Linked DNA regions of Homo sapiens. The protein of the gene in region 2 purifies or fractionates together with the protein of the main gene of each other region. This does not show direct contact. Each region holds a gene or a part of one and is shown on either strand. Other genes may lie near its edges.

What was found. Proteins that work in one complex are often made in the same cells at the same time.
Region 1: the proteins of ASXL1 (region 2) and SLC25A13 purify together in Homo sapiens (affinity purification with mass spectrometry, with the first as the bait; 2 studies listed by BioGRID). This does not show direct contact.
Region 3: the proteins of ASXL1 (region 2) and DDX17 purify together in Homo sapiens (affinity purification with western blotting; 2 studies listed by BioGRID, with this or other methods). This does not show direct contact.

What each region holds. Positions count from the first base shown.
Region 1 is NC_000007.14:96,186,067-96,193,098, forward strand, and holds part of SLC25A13 (electrogenic aspartate/glutamate antiporter SLC25A13, mitochondrial), read right to left. Parts: coding exon 6,971-7,032; intron 5,182-6,970; coding exon 5,043-5,181; intron 3,609-5,042; coding exon 3,515-3,608; intron 3,313-3,514; coding exon 3,228-3,312; intron 1-3,227. UniProt on the Homo sapiens protein: Mitochondrial electrogenic aspartate/glutamate antiporter that favors efflux of aspartate and entry of glutamate and proton within the mitochondria as part of the malate-aspartate shuttle.
Region 2 is NC_000020.11:32,361,303-32,368,334, reverse strand, and holds part of ASXL1 (polycomb group protein ASXL1), read right to left. Parts: intron 1,952-7,032; coding exon 1,869-1,951; intron 609-1,868; coding exon 606-608; intron 1-605.
Region 3 is NC_000022.11:38,482,906-38,489,311, forward strand, and holds the end of DDX17 (probable ATP-dependent RNA helicase DDX17 isoform 1 precursor), read right to left. Parts: intron 5,211-6,406; coding exon 4,974-5,210; coding exon of another isoform or gene 4,968-4,973; intron 3,536-4,967; coding exon 3,030-3,535; 3' UTR 533-3,029; downstream 1-532. UniProt on the Homo sapiens protein: As an RNA helicase, unwinds RNA and alters RNA structures through ATP binding and hydrolysis.

The DNA of each region.
Region 1 (7,032 bases), on a different chromosome or scaffold from region 2:
TTAAAGCAAGCATAAATAGAGAGATGTTTAGTAATATACACCCAAACCCTTAAAATGTACATAACCTCTGAAGTTAGAATAGGCTGGGTGCAGTGGCTCACACCTGTAATCCCAGCACTTTGGGAGGCCGAGGTGGGTGGATCACTTGAGGTCAGGAGTTCGAGACCAGCCTGACCACCATGGAGAAACCCCGTCTCTTCTAAAAATAAAAAATTAGCCGGACGTGGTGGCGCATGCCTGTAATCTCAGCTACTTGGGAGGCTGAGGCAGGAGAATCACTTGAACCTGGGAGGCGGAGGCTGCAGTGAGCCAAGATCGCGCCACTGCACTCCAGCCTGGGCAAGAAGAGTGAAACTCCGTCTCAAAAAGAAAAAAGTTAGGATAGAAGATAATCATGCATGTAACAAGCTACAAGAATGTAGCACTTAAAAAACATTTGTAGTACTTATTGGAAATTTCGATTATTTCCCAAATTTTTGCTCTTTAAACAAAAAGAACAAAAATTTGGGAAATATTCTAAATGTCCAATAACGGAGGACTATAGCCTTTAAAAATAATAACTTTAAAACAAAACCCTATCATTCAAAATGATACTGTAAAAGAATATTTGATATTAAATGTTCACAAGGAATTATAAAAGAAAACATAGGCTAAAAAGAGCATGGTAAGTAGATAGGTATTTGTCATATGATTCTTTGTACCTATTTAAATGTTTGACCTATTTCCTGGTAATTTTTTTAAAAACAATTTTTAAGACTATATACAAAATGATGTCACTTTTTATTAAAAATGCTTGTAAGAGGTTTACATATATATGCATATAAAATTAATACTAATATTTTGCCTCCCTACCACCCAGAGATACTCAAAACATTTACAGTAGCTAAAACTAGGTGGCTGTATTACAGTTGATCGTTACTTTTTCTCTTTTTTTGTCCATCTTTTCTAAATTCATACTTCAGGTCAGTCAGTCATTGTTTTCTGGTTCTTTTGACCTATTATCCTCACAGTGTTTTTGATGCCAGAACATTTCAGAGTGCTGCACTTCTCTGTCTGCATAAATAAAACAGTAATTTTATGTCACAGAGAGTTGTCAAATGAGGGTGACATATAGTCAGTGCTTAATAAATACCTGTTGAATGAATACATACATTCAATAAAATTTGTTTTTCAGAATCCATGATAATTAAAATCAGTGAACAATGAAAATAATCAGCAACCCCAGCTATCAACCCACTGAATTTTAGTTGCTGTCAATGTAACACAATTCTAATACAATGAGATCATTTGGAATCTCCTTCAAAGTCACTTAACTGAAAATAGCTTTACATAGAAATATGCCTCTTTAAGATACAAAACATTTCTTTTGCAAATTCTATGAGTTGTTTCCAACTGTAGCCCTATATAGATGGAAATCAATAGTACCTTCATTTTGACAGATGCATCCAAAAGAGAAGCAATATTTTATTTACAGGGATATAAATATGCAATACTTAGAAATGTTCTGGCATCAAAATAATGAGTGAAAATACTCTGAAAATTATAGAGGGTGGGGGGAGGAGGGACCTACCACCACCATTAATTCCTCTCCTAAAAGACAAATGAAATCCTAGACTTTTATTTAACTTTTCCAAAGCCAGAACTGTAGCATGTTCTTGAAATGAGACAAAACTCTGCTCCTTCACTCCTCTGTCCAGGATAAATGCTACAAGTGCTGCACAGTGCTGGACAGGCAGCGCTGTGCCCACAGGTGGACGACCTCCCTTGCTTGAATTTGTCGGGCCCACTAGGGTTCATGCAGTAAAAAGCCTATTCCAGGTAAGGCCATTGTGAATTGCTCTAAACCTCTAAGCGGCAGCGAATCATTTCCTGCTATAAATCTCATCAATCTGGTCTAACCCTTTCATGGCCAGTATCAACAAGCACCCATCATAAACTCTCAAAAGCTGCAAAGAGCTTAAAGGAAAAATTGTGGGAAGCCGCTGCCAGCTGAAGAGTAGGAGGGATCTAAAAAAAACTTCTCTGCTTCTCTTAATCCCCAAATTTCTACAATAGCTGGTGGCATACAGACGAAGAGATAATCATCTCCTAAGCAGTGTTAAAAATCAAAGGGAAGGGAGAGCAGTGTTGCTTCCACCTCTACACGTGATTATAGTTATTTCTCCTGCACTCAGAGAAATCGGCTTCCTCTTTTAAGCAAGGCCAGCTGGTTTTCCAGAGGTGCTCGTTAGAATTTACTGAGCACACACCCACTACTTTGACTTGCATGCTGCACACAAAACTCACCGCTGCATTTGGGTGGGAAAGAGCTAAAAGAAGGGGGCCCTGGCTCAAGGTCTGACAGTCCTAAAAGTGTAGCCTGCAGCAACCCATTGTGGTCACACTGGCGTCTCTGTACAAACCCAGAGCTCCATGCCAGAAACTGCGAAGTCTCACAGGATTCAGAGATGGCTCTGCCTAAAAGGAGAAATTTTTCTAAAAACGACACTCGCCTGTGAGTGGATTTATTTTACAAACACCATTTATTTTACTAACACATGCTATGAAGGCTTTTCTTCTCTAATCCTGATCTACAGAAAGCTGGGTAAGAGTTAAAGGAGAAAGTTCCATGTCTTAAGTTTCTGACTCCCACAACTTCAAGAGATTGGTTTCTGTTAACCATAAAATAAAATTTAGCATTCCTAAAATTGTTTCCATATAACTTATGAATCCTTTCACAGAGAAAATAGGTCTGAAAGCCTTTAAACTGTAACTCCAGACTAAACAAAATTATCTCATTTTGATATTCAGAAAAACGGAAGGCATGGCAGTTAGACGATGCGCTGATGAAGGGCTGCTCCACAGAGCAAAGACGGCTTTCATTTAGCAACGTGCAGCTGCCGACAGGCACAGTGACACCAACACGGGATTCTTTCGCTACATCTCTCAACATGAGACTTCAAGAAAGGAGAAAAGACCTCCTTCATGTTTTCGGAGCATTAGGCTTCTGGTGCAGTTAGGAAATCACTCCACCTTAGCAAGAAATGAGCAAATGCCAAATACCTGTTTATCACACCATTTCTAAGCAATTTCTCTTTACAGCCTTTAAAATTTATCGAGAGTTTTGGTGCAAAACAGAAAAATGGTTAAGTCAGATACCAATGCCGCAAAGGCAACTGCAAGTGGAACAGGGTTGGGGTATCCTGCTAAGGAAACCCCAGAATGCAAGTTTGCTCCTCTTTGCTCACCTGCCTCTGGGCCTCAGCCAAGTTAAAGGGCAGAGTTCCCTCTTCCAGAGGAGCAATCCGTTCAATGTCTGCTAAGGTCATACGTCTGTAGGGGAAAAACAAACACAAGCAACAAATATACCAATTTATTACAATTTACATTATAAAATTTAAAAACATCCCTTTTTTCATTTCTCATATTTCAGTATAGCCTTCAGTTTGGCTTCTTTTTCTCCTGATTGCTGCCCTCCTCCTAACCTCCTTTTATTAAGCTAATTCCAAAAAAAAAAAAAAAAAAGCCAACTTACCCCCTTGGCTCATATAAATCTGCTAACTGAAACAAGATGTCAACTTCCATGGGTGTAACCTGACCAAATTTCTGAGCTGCCAGAACAAACTCCTCTGTATGGAAGAAAAGTTAAAAGGGAAAGATTCAAGAAGAAATAGCCACTAAATTCAGCATTAACTCAAGGCACTGGAATGAGTGAACATCACAAAACTTTATTATTATCATCAGTTGTAGAATTCAAGTCAATCCAAATAAGGTAAGAATTTTTGCAGTTCTTGCATCCATTTGGAAAGCGTGTGCAGAATATGTTCTTGAATATACAGTTTAAAAGCTTGGGGTCATCTGATGTTATTCAAATTGCCAATCAGAGAAAATAAGGAATCATATATGAAACTTCATATGCATAGGTCCCAGGAGGGGAAGTTATATTAATCTAATTAACTGGTTAAATTAGGATTATTAATTATATTAATTTAGGTGGTTATATTAATGAAGGTGTGGAATTCCTAAGGGAATTCTGATTTTTTTTTTTTTTTTTTTTGAGACAGAGTCTTGCTCTGTTGCCCAGGCTGGAGTGCAGTGGTGCAATCTCGGTTCACTACAACCTCCGACTCTTGGGTTCAAGCGATTCCCCTGCCTCAGCCTCCCAAGGAGCTGGAACTACAGGTGTGTGCCACCATGCCCTGCTAATTTTTTTATATATACATTTTTAGTAGAGACGGGGTTTCACCGTGTTAGCCAGGATCGTCTCAATCTCCTGACCTCATGATCTGCCCGCCTCGGCCTCCCAAAGTGCTGGGATTACAGGCATGAGCCACCGCACCGGCTCTGATTTTTTTTCTTAATCCCATTACAATGCTGATAATATCCTGTCCCAAGCCTACAGACCAACTTACACTGTCACCAATGCAACTTTATGGAATTCCTCATATACACCTGAAGGCTTCCTTAGAGGTTGCCAATTTAGCTCAAGCTGTAGCAAGATTTGAAAATATTTAAGAAACTTTACATGTTTTCCTTATTCAAAGGGTGTCTTCAGTTTATTTATTTATTTATTTATTTATTTTTGAGATGGCATTTTGCTCTTGTTGCCCAGGCTGGAGTGCAGTGGCGTGATCTCGGCTCACTGCAACCTTCGCCTCCCAGGTTCAAGCGATTCTTCTGCCTCAGCCTCCCAAGTAGCTGGGATTACAGGTGCCCACCACCACACCCGACTAATGTTTGTATTTTTAGTAGAGACAGGGTTTCACCCTCTTGGCCAGGCTGGTCTCGAACTCCTGATCTCAGGTGATCCACCCACCTCGGCCTCCCAAACTGCTGGGATTTCAGGTGTGAGTCACCAAGCTGGGCCCAGTTTGTTTAAAACTTGGTGAAGATTGTTTTGTTTGCTTTTGTTTGTCTGATCAAAGGATGAAAAACACACGTTATCATATAGTTAATATGTGTCAATGGGATAGAAAAATAATAAAGTACTAGTTGCCTTCTTCACCCTAATAATAATACACCACAATACTTGCAGGCTAGAATTCAGATATATTCTCACTCACCCTTAGTCACTTCAACATCTTTCCTGGTGCCAGCCAGAGTGCTATAGATCTTTCTAATGAGTTCCATGTTGTTAAGGAGCGAATTAAATCCATTAAAATAGGAGAAACTAACTTGATGGGATGTGGTACCTCCAGCAGCCTCAAATAAATTGAAAACAAGAGAGAAGAAAAATATACAAAAGATTTATAGATGATTCAGAAGTACATACATCTAAAACTAGTTTGAAAGTAATCAAAAATGCATGTACAAGAAGAAATGACTATAAGTATTTTTCTTTTGCATTAAAAAAAAGCTATAAATGATTTTTAGAAGCAACTGCAACTAATCATGACCAGAACTTGTACTCTCCATACACAACTCCTAGAAAACTAAATAAATACATGTGTAGGATTATAACAGGACTAGTAGTAATTTAGAGTTCAAATTTCAATTGGAAATGTTTTATAAGTTGGTTTATTTCATCTAATGAGCAAATCTTAAAGGCTTAAACATGCAAAAACTATAAGTACATATGCACACATGTGTGTGCTTATGCATGAAAAACTGTATTGTATCAATGCAAACATACTATGAAAAGTAGTCAATGTAACATTAATATCAAGACTTGTCAAGTTACTTATAACCAGTAATAAATAATCATTTAGGTACAGACTTTACATTGGTGGGATTTCTAGCAAACAAGCATATTATGGTAAAATTATGAGATGCCATATACTTTCATGGGGGGTTAAGACTAGTAAAAATTCTGATAATCAGAATTTTTAAGAAACCATATTTCTTCACAGGGGACAAGGGAAACAGACAGAATGTCCATTATGAATGAGACTTCAGTTTGGAGTTTCAAATTCTATCCTTCCCTAGCAAGGCAAAATATTTTTATTAGGAAAGCACTTCTTTACAAGGTAACAACCACATAAATCTTCACTTAGTAATCATTTAAAATAGCTGACATGAAAGTTTAGTATGGAGTAGAGAAGGGGGCGCCCAAGAAAAGGAGTTAGATTAACACAGTGCCAGAATGGAAGAGGCCTCGTTGGAATACCATGTCTCTAGAACTAAGGACTTGGGGGAAGAAAGGAAACTGAAAGGCTACTCTGAGTTCCTGCCTATGGTAAGCACTGTGGGAAACCCAGATGATGGTGAAAACAGTATTCTCCCTGGGATTAACAAAAGGAGAGTTACCACGGGCTATTGGTCCTAAAACTGAGTTATTACCAAAATCACCCAGAAGCTTTACAAAATTAGATTCTAAGACCTCATCGCCTATAGATGGTGTATGATAGGCCTAGAAGAGATCTCAGAATCTGTAGTTTTAATAGTTTTTAGTGGTGATTCTGGTGCTCCACGAGCAGGTCTTAAGAACCACCACCACAGAATGTTGCAGGACATCCCCAGGGCCCATGAGGGAAGGACAGCAGCTGACACCTGGAGGAGGGAGGCTCCATGAAACACAACTGCAGGGCTCTGCTGTCACATGTAACTCTGTGGCCTCGACACATACACGGTGAAAGGGAATCTAAGGTTTGGAGTTTCTGTTGTGCTAACTACTCTAACAAATGATATACATGTGCACTATTTTTTTTTTTTTTTTGCCTTAGAGCATCTAAGAAGATTAGCAAAAATCAGCCCTTGATATACTTCAAAATCTAAAACAAAATTAACATGAGATCACAAATCTGTTTTTCCTTTTATCTTTAAAAAGCTAATGTATTTCTCGAAGATATTCCGTATTACCCAGACAACAAATTAACCTACCCACTAAAACTAGCCAAAACACACTCTTTGTTTGAGTTTAGTAATGTATGTGATCACATTAAAATGTTAGTGTTTGCAACAGAAAAAAAACACTACATAACTTATAAGAATTGTTTTTATAATTCCTTATTTACTGAGTTAAACCACTTCATTAGGGCAAGTTACAACTTACAGCTACTAGACATTCTTCTACAAAAGGAGTCAAGACATGGGGGCGGATGGTGACCATGATGT
Region 2 (7,032 bases):
GGTCCCTGCCACAACAGCAGGTTACAAAACGTGACAATTCAGTGCAAAGGATGCTACTTACTGAATCTTTAAATAGAAAAGCTACCAAAAATATCAACAAATGACCATTATTAATATTAACTGAGTTTGGCACTAGCATATTAGTGCTAGGAGTCACCTGTGCACCCTCTCTTCCCTCTCCCCAGCATGTTAAAAAATATATAAATAGCTTAAGTAAGCCTCTTTGCATTTTTCAGAACTAGAAGCCCTAATTTATGCAGTGTTAAAAATAAATTCTGAGTCTAAAAAAACCATTAAAAAACTATTACTTATTTTGCCTTGGAACACACTGGATGCTAAAAAATTTTTCACCAAGAACCAATCTCTAAAAGAAACCCTATGCAAAATCTGGAGTATCAAGTGGGTGTGCTAGCATCTCTGCTACAAGGGGAACAGCATGCTGGCACAGCTCTTCTGTGACTCCTACATATTATACCTCTGTCTACAAATTACAGAGCTGCTCACTCATCATGAGCCATCATGACTGCTTCATAATTCCTCTAAGAACAAGAAGCAGAAACAAGTTAAGGTTCTCAATTCCATATGTCCCAAAGGGACTCATTTACCTTCTATAGGCAAAGTGGTCCAACAGCAGTGCAGACAGCAGCATGATGGGAAATAGCCCATAAAAACAAAAATAAAGCACAATTATAACACTACACAGTGGATAAGTACAAGTCAAATAAATGTGATGTAGACAATCTCAATCTTCCCTCCCCACAAAACATCAACTTGAGAACGTTTGAACTGACAACTGGAAAGTGAAGGCCTTTTGACCCTAAAAGGTCAATTAAAGCAGCTAAGTTTGACTAGCAAAAACATGAAGTTTGCTCTGAGTCCCAGGCAAGGACTGTGTAGTGCTCTCCTCTTTCCTCATTTAAGTACTTTCTTTGTTTTTTGTTTTGTTTTGTTTTTTGAGATGCAGTCTTATTCTGTTGTCCAGGCTGGAGTGCAGTGGTGCAATCTCGGCTCACTGCAACCTCCGTCTCCTGAGTTCAAGCGATTCTCCAGCCTCCGCCTCCCAAGCTGGAACTACAGGCTACAGGCATGCGTCACCATGCCGGCTAATCTTTGTATTGTTAGTAGAGACGGGGTTTTGCCATGTTGGCCAGGCTGGTCTCGAACTCCTGACCTAAGTGATCTGCCTGCCTTGGCCTCCCAAAGTGCTGGGATTACAGGCATGGGCCACTACCCCCAGCTTTTTTTTTTTTTTTTTTTAAGTTTGAAGTTAGGATGAGGAAAAAGAAAGATGAAAGATAGTCCTGGCTTTCAAGCCTGCAAATTCTATGTTTCTAACTTGTTACTTCTCCAGGAAAACTACACCATAAATTTGGAAAATAAAGGTCACCTCAAAATTTAGTAAATTCACATCATATATGACTGCAATTAGTAAGGGGAAAAAAGTCAGTGGTTTTTTATGTTGATGAGACCACTGTTCTTTTATTCTAAAAGAAAGAACTTCAGTGATACGGCATAGAGAAAAGGGTAGCGTTAGGCACAATAGAGGCTATCAGGTCTGAAACTTCCAAAACAGCACAAGAGAAAATGTGCCCTGACTCCTTACACAAAAAACAAGCTCTATGCCAAGATTTAAGGAAGAACAAGGAGATGGGGAAAGCCACTGCACCTCTAAATGAAAACAAATGGATGTTCACCCACTGCCACCCTCCACTGAGACGACACACAATTTGGGAAATGGATAGTTCCATCTCACTACCAGACACAGAAGCACAAATACATACACAGGTGTACTTACTCATATCACTACAACTACAGAAAGACACATATCCTATGAAACCCTCATGTTAAGCAACAAGAACAATACAAACCTCATTTCCTTTAGTCCTTCTGCCTCTATGACCTGCAGAATCTGTTTTGGTGTCATTGGAGCATCCGAGTAGTTTTCTAATACCTGAAGAAATATAAACGTCCTAATTTCAGTGTGCAATTTCCATTTATATCCATCCATCCATATATCATGGGCTAAAGTTATGCTATGAGGTACCGCTGGTGACAACTTAGTTTTTCCACAGTTAAAATTACTTCAGAAATCAAATTACACATATATCTAGTTACTGAAAAGTTACTGCAATTAACTGAAATGTTCTAATTCTCAATTCTAAGGATGCATATCTTCTCAGCATACATGGTATAGTATGCGAGACCTTAGCAACACTGGTTACTGTTCAGCTTGATGCTGTTAATACTGCTAAACCACAGAATATATAGTGCTGCACAAGAAATGTATGACACAGAAATGCATTCACATTTTCTTTCCCAAGGAAGTTTGATTAGTATATATATATACACACACACACTAATTTTTGTATTTTAGTAGAGACTAGAGCTAGTCTCGAACTCCTGACCTCAGGTGATCTGCCCGCCTCAGCCTCCTAAAGTGCTGGGATTATAGAAGTGAGCCACCACGCCTGGCCAAGTACCCATATTTTTAAACGGTGCTTTCTGCCACTGTGTTGTTAATTTGTGGTGTTAACTGCCACAGTACGTTCTGCCATCTGGCACATGATGCTATGATTCTGCATGACTGGTGCAATGAGAAACAGAATATCCCATTTATGTTAGCATCACCTATAACCAAGTCATGGCAGTATTGCAGTATTTTCTTAGTGTGCAACTGCAGCTCTCTTGCTTTAAGAGTTGTTTTAGATATGTTATTCTTCTAAAGGAAGAAAAAAGCTGTCAATATCTTTGTACTTTGTCTACCTGTGCAGCTACTCAGGGTACTCCAAATCAAGCTAACATCTTACAGTCCATTTAACTGCCATAGCCAAGTACTGCTGTCACAAGCAAAACATAAAGAAGTCTGATACGATGCTGCTGTCTACAGCCATACCACCCTGAATGTGCCCGATCTCGTCTGATAGGTCTGCTGCGGAAGGTACTCTCTATGGAAGAACATAAGACCTCAGCACCAAAGTCAAGGTTTGGAGAAGGTACTAAAATAAAACCCCTATTTCCCATGGTCCTATTCTTTGCTTCTCTTTTCAGATTTTCCATTCTCCATGGGTAACATTATCATCTCAGTTTCAGCTACTACCTAAATTCTGATAACTACCTAATCTCTACCTCTAGCTCTGACTTCTCCCCCAAATTTCAGATTCAAATATTCAGTTGTGTACTGACTATACCCCTTCATTATCTACTCTAATTCAGCTCTACTCTTAATTCATCTAATTGGCAACTCTAATTCACCTCTTCTCCAGACCCACTCTTCTTCCTGTATTCCCTACCTTGATTGACAGCCTGTATAATCACCTAATTCAGAAACGCAGGTGTCATCTTTCTCGCTCATCTGTCCGCCAAGTCCCAAAACCAGTCTCTTACCTGACCCAACACAACAGCCTCTTAATATTTATCCCTCCATCCAGTCCTGCTTTCCTCAAATCCATTCTGACTCTGTTGTCATCCTTCATTCAACAAACACATGGAACACGTACCTTGTGCCAGACACAATTCTAGGGATTCACAGTAAACAAGACCAAATCCCTGCTCTGGTAGAACTTACATGTTATAGACTGAGGTCAACCCAGCAAAGCAAACCTGCCCTCATCACTTTCAGCTCTAAAATCCTTCAACAGGCCAGGCACGGTGGTGCACACCTATAGTCTCAGCTGAGACTGAGGCAGGAGGGTCACTTGCTGCGCTCAGGAGCTCCAGGCTCTAGTGCACTATGATCGTGCCTGTGTATAGCCACTGCACTCCAGCCTGGGTAACACAGTGAAACCTCATCTCTTTAAAGAATTTAAAAAATATATATGGCTGGGTAAAGTGGGTCACACCTGTAATCCCAGCACTTTGGGAGGCCAAGGTGGGCAGATTGCTTGAGCCTAGGAGTTCAAAACCAGCCTGGGCGACATGGTGAAACCCTGTCTCTACAAAAAAATACAAAAAACTAGATGGGCATGGTGGCTCATGCCCGTAATCCCAGCTACACAGGAGGCTGAGGTGGGAGAATCATCTGAGCCCAGGAAGTGGAAGCTGCAGTGAGCTGTGATGGCACCACTGCACTTCAGCCAGGGTGACAGAGTGAGACCCTGTCTCAAAAAATAGTAATAATAATAATAGAAAGCAAATAAAATCCTTCAACAGCTCCTTAATCACATACTGCAAAAGCTGAAGCTTCCAAAGTCCACTGGCCCACCGGTAAAGAACAGGATCTAGAGTTAGATTCAAATTTTTACATTCTAAACTGGGGCAATTACAACCCAACCTGAACCTAGGTTCTCTTTTGAAGGATACTGATGTCTTCCTCTCGAGTTGTTGGACAGATTAGAGACAATGTAAGTAATGCCTACAATGTCTGGCACAGAGTAGGTGCTCACTGGCCTGGCATATGGAACCCTCACAATCTGGTCTCTGCCTCTCTACCCATCCACAGTGACACTCTACAAACTTTATGTTCCAATAATTTGTAGATATACCTAATTCCCACACGTTGCAAATACACACACTCCCTCTCACCCACTCTGACTCTTTCTCTCCTGCTATGTGTTGTCACCAGCTCCTGCTTATGCCCTCTGTGATTGGCCTAACTCCTAGTTACCCTTCAAGATTCAGCTCAGAAAGCACCTTCCTCCAGGAAGCCTTCCCTGATCTCTGCCAGGCAGAGGTAAATGTCTCTTTTCAATGTTCCCATTGTTTCATAACACATACAATTATCTTCCAAACCAGGACAGTTGAGAGTGAAAGGAGAAACTATGACTAGACAAGAGGCAGCAACTGGGATATCTGTTTATGATTTATACAACTATGATAACACGTATCATGACTGTAGTAAAATTCTGTTCCTGCGTCTGGACCTTCTTCATCCCCAGAAGACCATAAGCCCTGAGGGGCAAACCTTATCCACCTCTGTATTCCAAGAACCTAAGTGCCAAGATGGGCAGTACTGACTTGAACAAACCTACAATAAACCCTGGAACAAGCTACTAATGTTCACTGCCACAGATAACATTTCTTTGATACTAATTAAATGAAAGCTGAGCTGGCGAATTTTTATATCTTTTTTTTTTAAGAAGCATGACTCAAATAGTAACTACCAATTATTTAAACAGCAATCAGAAATAGCCTGAGAATTTAAGACAGGGGAAACAGAATCTCTAAAGGGAAGTTACATCAAAAGATACAAAGTATTCTTTTTTATTAAAACTGTTTATGCCTCCAGCTCTTGGTATAAGAACAAGTCAGCAGTGTTCTATTCCTAGTCTCTTTCTAGACTACATTTTTTTTTTTAAGTATCTCTTCTCTTACTTCAAAGGGGAAAAAAATGTTTGATGTAAGAACTGGTCAGTCATGAATCAAAGTAAAAGATAAAGCATACAACAAAGAGTTTCTCGAAGCCAGGGAGAATCCATTTAGCGTCCTCGATTTAAAGGGAAATCCCCTTGGCTATTTCTCCCAAACAAACTGTTTATAACAAGTTGGAGGATTTATATCCACTCAACCACATAAGGTCTACTTCTTACACCTAGAAAAGACAATACTACAAAATGTGTGAAAGAAAGACTATTTTTCAACAGCATAATTAACATCTGCAAAAATCAATCTCCTGGGGTACACTATACTGAAATTCTTAAGAATCTTCTTTCCTCTACGAAAGGTTTTTTTGTTGTTGTTGTTTTGTTTGTTTGTTTTTGAGACAGAGTCTTGCTCTGTCGCCCAGGCTGGATGGAGTGCAGTAGCTCGATCTCGGCTCACTGCAAGCTCCGCCTCCCGCGTTCACGCCATTCTCCGGCCTCAGCCTCCCGAGTAGCTGGGACTACAGGCACTCGCCACCACGCCTGGCTAATTTTTTGTATTTTTAGTAGAGATGGGGTTTCACCGTGTTAGCCAGGATGGTCTCGATCTCCTGACCTCGTGATCCGCCCGCCTCGGCCTCCCAAAGTGCTGGGATTACAGGCGTGAGCCACCGCGCACAGCCTACAAAAACAATTTTTAAAAGGATTCCCAGTAACACTCTAGTCACCAATCTGAGTGGGGTCAGGAGCAATCTGAAAGCGTTCCCATGGAAGTGCATACAATTGCCATTGCAAGCACTCCAAATTCACCTGCCCAAAGAGAAGTGTTCAGGTGTTCTAATCAACTGTCCTACGTTCCCTCCTAGTCAAGTTTCTCTCAGTCCAGTGTACGCTCTCACAAATTCTCCAGTACAGTGTTACAGCAACTTTTTTTAAACATTAAGAGGACTGGTTTTTTCTTTTGTTTTGTTTTTGAGACAGAGTCTCACTGTCGCCGCTGGAGTGCAGTGGTGTGATCTGGGTTCACTGCAACCTCCACCTCCCGAGTTCAAGTGATTCTCCTGCCTCAGCCTCCCGAGTAGCTGAGGTTACAGGCATGCACCATCACCATGCCTGGCTAATTTTTGTATTTTTAGTAGAGACGGGGTTTCACCATGTTGGCCAGGCTGGTCTCGAACTTCTGGCCTCAGGTGATCCGTCTGCCTCGGCCTCCCAAAGAGCTGGGATTACAGGCGTGAGCCACCGTGCCCGGCCTGGGACTCTTAAAAAGTTCCCCCTCACCTACCATCCAGTCCCATTCAAAGAAATGGAAAATTCTAAAACAAAAAACACACACAAGATACTCAAATTGCATATCACATTCTCAACAAGTCCTTTTTCTTTTTTTCTTTTTTTTTTTTTTTTGAGACGAGTCTTGCTCTGTCACCCAGGCTGGACAGTGGCATGGCCTTGGCTCTCTGCAACCTCCACCTCCCAAGTTCAAGTGATTCTCCTGTCTCAGCCCCCTCAGTAGCTGGGATTACAGGCGTGCACCACCACACCCGGCTAATTTTTGTATTTTTAGTAGAGACTGGGTTTTACCTTGTTGGCCAAGCTGGTCTAGAACTCCTGACCCTGTGATCCACCCACCTCGGCGTCCCAAAGTGCTGGGATTACAGGCGTGAGCCACAGCGCCCAGCCTCATTATTTTTTTAGAGTCAGGGTCTCCCTCTATCACCCAGGCTGGAGTGCAGTG
Region 3 (6,406 bases), on a different chromosome or scaffold from region 2:
TGTCCCAACTAAAGACCAGTTAAAATATTAGGGTACGTTCTTGTGAATTTCCACTTTCCAGGTAGATGACCAAATTTAGGTGGTCAAGATATAAAGGTGTCAGCTAGTTTTAAGTGTGAAACTTATTTCACTTTCACACTGCCTTCAGGCCAGAAGCAAACCAAATTTACCAGGTTTGGCTGGAGGAGTTTTGTGACTCATCTTTTACTGGTTTGAATTTTTTCAAACCAGTGGCTGATACCTGCCTTGTACTTAGTACCTTAATACCAATAACCTAATGGTACTTAGGCGAGTACCATTTGCACAATCACTGTTTTACTTATGAGCAGATACAGATATATCCAAACCCTTACCTACTAGGTATCCTGCTAGGGTTTTCAATTCCAATTCTTGTATTAAGTTTTTTCCTTTCAGTTTTAGGTGCGAAAGTAATCAGTCAATCCAATATCCCCCATCTTTGTCTTGAAACAAAAACTGTTTTAAGACGTCTACGTTGAATTATTCAGAGAATTAAGCAATAAAAGCTCACACCTTATTGTCAACAGTGTTTTTATTTATACCTACAAAAAGAAAACAAGATGATGGTATCAAAAGGACAATTTACAAACTAAGAATAGTAACATAGCTTTCAGCATCCTGTGCCTGAACATCACACATCTACAAGTCTTTCAAGTCTTAATGCAACAGGAATGTGTCTGGAGACCAGCAAGAACATCAATAGAGAGCACTGATCCCAAGCAAAAGCCACTAACCTTTTAGATGAGAAGTCCACACAACGAATTGTTAGGGAGGATTGGGGAGAAGCAGCCCATTGCTTAATACATTGGAACCCTTTCCCTAAGTTGAGTTTCAACCATGAATGCAATAACTAGCATAAAACGATTCTTCTGCTCATGTTCTGAAGCCAACAGCAGAACCTGAATTATAAGTGACAGACATGGAGGCAGAAGAGTTAAACTCTGCTAGATTTCAGCTGTGCTCAGGCCATAATAGTTTTTGAGGTTTGGAATTTACTGTTATTTTATGATTACAATGTCCCAGGTGGAAAAAGGGAAGCAAGCAATCCAAATAACCACTTGCTTGCCCAGAGACCTTTCCCTCAAACAGATGCTTTCAAGAGCTGCGAGAGAGTAGGGCATCCCTTGTGGTGGTACCTCTATGTTTAAAGAAAGAAGAAAAAAACCCAGAATTTGGTTGTAGAAAACAATGCCCACAACAGACTGGCCAGTGCTTAGACAAATTTGGGGTTGGGGGGAACACTTTGGTTTGAAAGCACAGAGCAGTTTGCCATGTTTCTTCTGTGCCTACCATTCTCCCTTGGCCTCAACTTCTGTAAGATGGGGGGGGGACAAAAAGAGAAGTAAAGTTAAGAAGAAAGTGGAAAATTAAAAAAAAAGATGTCAAAGTTTTTACATGCATATATTTCAGCTTATGCTGAAGACCTACCTGTATGTTGCACATTGAATCATACTTTCAGAACCCCTCAGAAACCATCCCTCTCTCCCTAAAGAATTTTAAAAGGAAAACAAAACCTCGAGTATAGATCTTACAGATGAGCAAGCATTCAGGCCTTAGCCAAAGAATGCAGTGGAGCCTTCCCCCTTCAACTGCATTGTGAATGAATACCAATTAACAGCATAAAAATTAATAGTCCCATATCAGATCTGGAAGGGGTTTCTGGGGCTGTCTGATGTCCCTATCCTGTTGTAGTGAACACAATAGCAGAAAATTCTTTCTGGGTCCATCTGCTATAAAGTCTTGGTAAAACAGCATTACCATGAAGAGGATGAACTCACCTACCTTCAGATGGAGGAAAAGTGAAAAGGACTTAGGCTTTAGTCCTCCATGACTTTTCTTAAGCACTACCTACCTGTAATAAGCTGAGTGCAAAAGGATGCCGAAGAAAATCTGCACCCAGAAGCTGTTAGAAAGCACTGCAGAGAACAGGGTATGAAGAAAATAAAGAGTTCTTAATAAACCCTTAAGATTCTTTGTTCAAGGTAACTTTGCCAAAAGGGCAGAGTAGGTGGCAAAGAGTTGCTTTTAATCTAGCTCTACACTGCATTTGAAAATAAAATTTGCCCATTTTGAATATATTGTTTATAATTAAATGTGCTTTTTACACTGCAGGTCAATATAAAAACTGGTTAGTAAATTTCCAGCGAGCATTTATGTTCATTTGCTCACAGCAGCTGTCTGGATGGAAAATTAATTTCACAGATGGTCCCCAGTTAAACTGGGAAGAAATATAGGCAGCTTCCACCCAGATGCTGAGATGCTACAGTTTAACCACTACAATAAACACTTGTGGTTTTTAATTTAAAGGATACACAAAACTCAGCAATTCAATTTCTAGCCTGACACTAAAATGGTTATTTTTCAGTAACGGGGGGAGAAGTGGGGAGGCAGAGTGTGAAGGGAAATAAAACCAATTAGTAATTTTTAACTATCAAATGCACTCCAGCAATCAGTCAAAACAGGCCCGAGGAAACCTGTTCCAACTTAAGAAACATTTAAAAGCACAAAAGAAAATGTGCAGGGCAATCCCTCTTTGTTTTCTAACCCAGTAATGAGAAATTTAAAGCACAGATGCCATCTTCCTCTGCAAAACAATTCAGCCCTCCCCCTCCCTCCCTCCCCACCAACTCAGAAAAACAAAACATGGGGCTCCCACAAAAGGGCCTAATACCTTACTCTTTTAGATGAAAAATAGCTCAAATATCTTCAACATGCAAGAAGTTGGGGGAAGAAATTAATCTCTTCCAGTCAGCTATATATATATATATATATTTTTTTTTTTTTTACAAAATGTTATTCCAGACTGGATCATTTTGGTGGGCAGAAGAAACCTGGCAGTGAATTCTAACTAATCTGCATGAAAAGACAAATCACGATGGTTGGGGGGAAAAATTAAAAAAAAAAAAAGAAAAAAGGAAAAAAAAAGAAAAGGCGAAGAGGAAAAAAAAAGGAAAGACAGTGTTCCTTAAAATGTAATTAAGTCTGCTGGAGTCACTACCACTTGAGTGGTTTCATTTACGTGAAGGAGGAGGAGGGGGAGGAGGAGGAGGGTATTGGTAGGCAGTCTGCCCCATGTAACCTATCATATTGGTAGCTCCCGGAGGCTGTGCAAACTGTTGTGACATCAGTGGCTGTGGCTGCTGCCCAGACCGGCCTATCCCACTAAACTGCTGGCTAGAGCTCTGTGAACTTCTCCCAGTTGAGGTGGTGCTACTAGCTCCATAAGTGCCAGCACCATATTCTTGAGCTGTATAGCTACTGGTGCCATAAGCAGCTGCCCCATAGGTGCCTTGACCATAGGTGTATTGGCCTGCTTGTGCTCCAAAGGCAGAATTTGGACTTCCATAGCCACTGCCATTAGCATAACCAGCTCTATCGGTTTCACTACGATCCCGATAGCTTGCAGAGTCTCTCCGGCCACCATCCTTGACTCCTCGAAGCCTTCGGTCACACTCATCCTGATACATCAGATTGGGATTGTTGGCTGAAGAAGTGGTCCGGTAACGAGAACGACCACCTAATGGGAAGATACAAGAAGATTTTTAATGGCAGATATAGGACCTAAACATAACAATGTAAAAATTCTACTGGGTACAAAAGTATTAAACATGTCTCCTTGATATTTAGTTATGCTGGCCAGCCTCCCAATTAGTACTGTAAAAATATACTCATAATTTGATTCTTTAATGGGGCACATTCAAAAGCACAGTAAAAATTAAAGGACACTAGACCTTTTCACCCTTTTAGGCCCCTTACTTGAGGATGATCAAGAAACACGGTATTACAATATGAAACCTTGAGTCAGGAAGCCCAGATCCTAGGATATTCTGCAACTGTAGATGCAACTGCTATGTCTCAGTTTCTACCCACCACTAAACAGTGTAAAATGACTGACCTCTCCGTATGGAAAACTGGAAACCTAATATACTACTAAGCATTTTTGAAAGTATTAAAAAAGCAACCATGACCGGGGGCACACTGGCTCACTCTCGTAATCCCAGCACTTTGGGAGATCAAGGCAGGAGGGTCACTTGAGGTCAGCAGTTCAAGACCAGCCAACATGGTGAAACCCTGTCTCTACAAAAAATACAAAAATTAGCTGGACATGGTGGCACATACCTGTAGTACCAGCTACTTGGGAGGCTGAAGCAGGAGAATCACTTGAACCCAGGAGGCAGAGGTTGAAGTGAGCCGAGATCGTGCCACTGCACTCCAGTCTGGGCAACAGAGTGAGACTGTCTCTGCCCCCGCCCCGCCAAAGCAACCACATTAAAACTCAGACCAGCCTCAGCTAGGTTTGGTGGCTCACTCCTGTAATCTCAGCACTTTGGGAGGCCAAGACAGGTGGATCACCAGAGGTCAGGAGTTCGAGACCAGCCAGGCCAACATGGTGAAACTCCACAGACCAGCCTCAGCTAGGTTTGGTGGCTCACTCCTGTAATCTCAGCACTTTGGGAGGCCAAGACAGGTGGATCACCAGAGGTCAGGAGTTCGAGACCAGCCAGGCCAACATGGTGAAACTCCACCTCTACTAAAAATACAAAAATTAGCAGGGTGTGCTGGCGGGTGCCTGTAATCCCAGCTACTTGGGAGGCTGAGGCAGGAGAATCACTTGAACCTGGGAGGCAGAGGTTGCAATGAGCTGAGATCGCGCCATTGCACTTCAGCCTGGGCGACAGAGCAAGACTCCGTCTCAAAACAAACAAACAAACAAAACCAAACCTCAGACCAGTCTCTAAGAAAAAAAAATTCACAATTTAGCTTAACTAATAGGACTATCACAACAAACTTCACGTTTTCTTAGTTGAAAAAGGTTATAAAAAGCATTAGGCAGTGTCCTTTGCTATTAAGCAACATACTTACAGCCTTCTTAAAAACAGCAACTAAAAGCAAGTCACAGAAGGCGTAAAGAGATACCTTGGCAGTACCTGGAAAACTCCAGGACTTACCCTTACCCCCGCCTCCGCCGCCTCCTCTGTGGTCCACAAGCTGCATCAGTTTTGGATTGATAGCCTGATTGGCCTCTTCCAGCACTTTGATAAGCTCTCTGGCCTGTTTTAGGTTCCCTGGGGTGAAGAAGGTATAGGCGGTACCCTTGTTGGTGCTACGGGCTGTTCGGCCAATACGGTGCACATAATCCTCTGAGCTGTTTGGATAGTCATAGTTGATCACAAACTTGACATCTTCCACATCTTCCACGTCAATGATGAGTCAGTGTGTAGGTTGATGTGGCAGGGAAAGAGAAGGTAAAGGACATGCCAACAACAGGTGGGAAGCACGAATGCAGATGACAGCAAGAGGAAAGAAGGTGAAGTTAGTAACCACTCTGAACAGAAACAAAAAAAGACTCATCCCAACAGAGTAAAAGAGGATTACTGATTCCTGGGACATGCATAGGAAATAGGATCTTTATTGGCTGTAGAATCCTAAGGGAATCCCATCCAAACATCCAAACTCCTGCCTCTGCTACATTTTACCAATATACTGACAGGAGTTACACCAATATTGGTCTTCAGACGCAAATTCCAGTACTATCCTTTACAAAACCAGAACATAGAACAAAGTGGTAAACCACTGTGAAGTTATGAGGCCAAATCACTTCTACTCTGTTGGGAGAAGCCTGGCAAAATCTACCAACAACATAACAAACTTACCTTTAAACCAGTCACAGAGCAAAGTAAAAAAAGGAGCTTCATATATTTTATTACTACAATTTAAAGGAAACTTAAATGTTTTGATTAACATTTAACTTTTTTTGCTCTTATCTTTTTAAGAAACTGAGTAGAGCCAAAGCTGTTAAGTACACACCTATTTTCCTTTGCAGAAACATCCAGATTATCTATCCCCTTTCAATTACAAGAGCACATTACACTAAAATTTTACTGTACTACCAAGCCCAGCTTCTGCCAAAATGAGGATATTTTTGCTCAACTCAAGGTTATTTCAACTCAGGACTTGTTTCAATTATCAATGATTGTCTACGTGACCTGGGAAATTAAATTAATAGCCAAAGAACGTGGGAAAACCATGAAACCTTGAGACACAAGTTTAGTATTCTCTCTACTGCTGGGAATTGGGCTGAATAACCTCCTAAGGCTTAAAATGTAAATGTTAGTGTAATGCTTTCAGCTGAATGTATATTTTTACCTACTTAAACAAACAATTTTAAGAATATAACAAAGAATCCTACTGTTTTGTGGAAAAAAATCTGCATTTTACAAAGAATATTCAGAAAATATCCTAGATAAAACACAGATTTTTGTGATATAAATAATTAAAAAACATTCTCTGTTTGTTACCAGACCGATGCACACTCCCTCCTCCTTTGGGAAACCGCTGCAGCCGATCCCGTCTCTTTGCCTTTTATTTTTGGCGGCCTCCTTTCGAA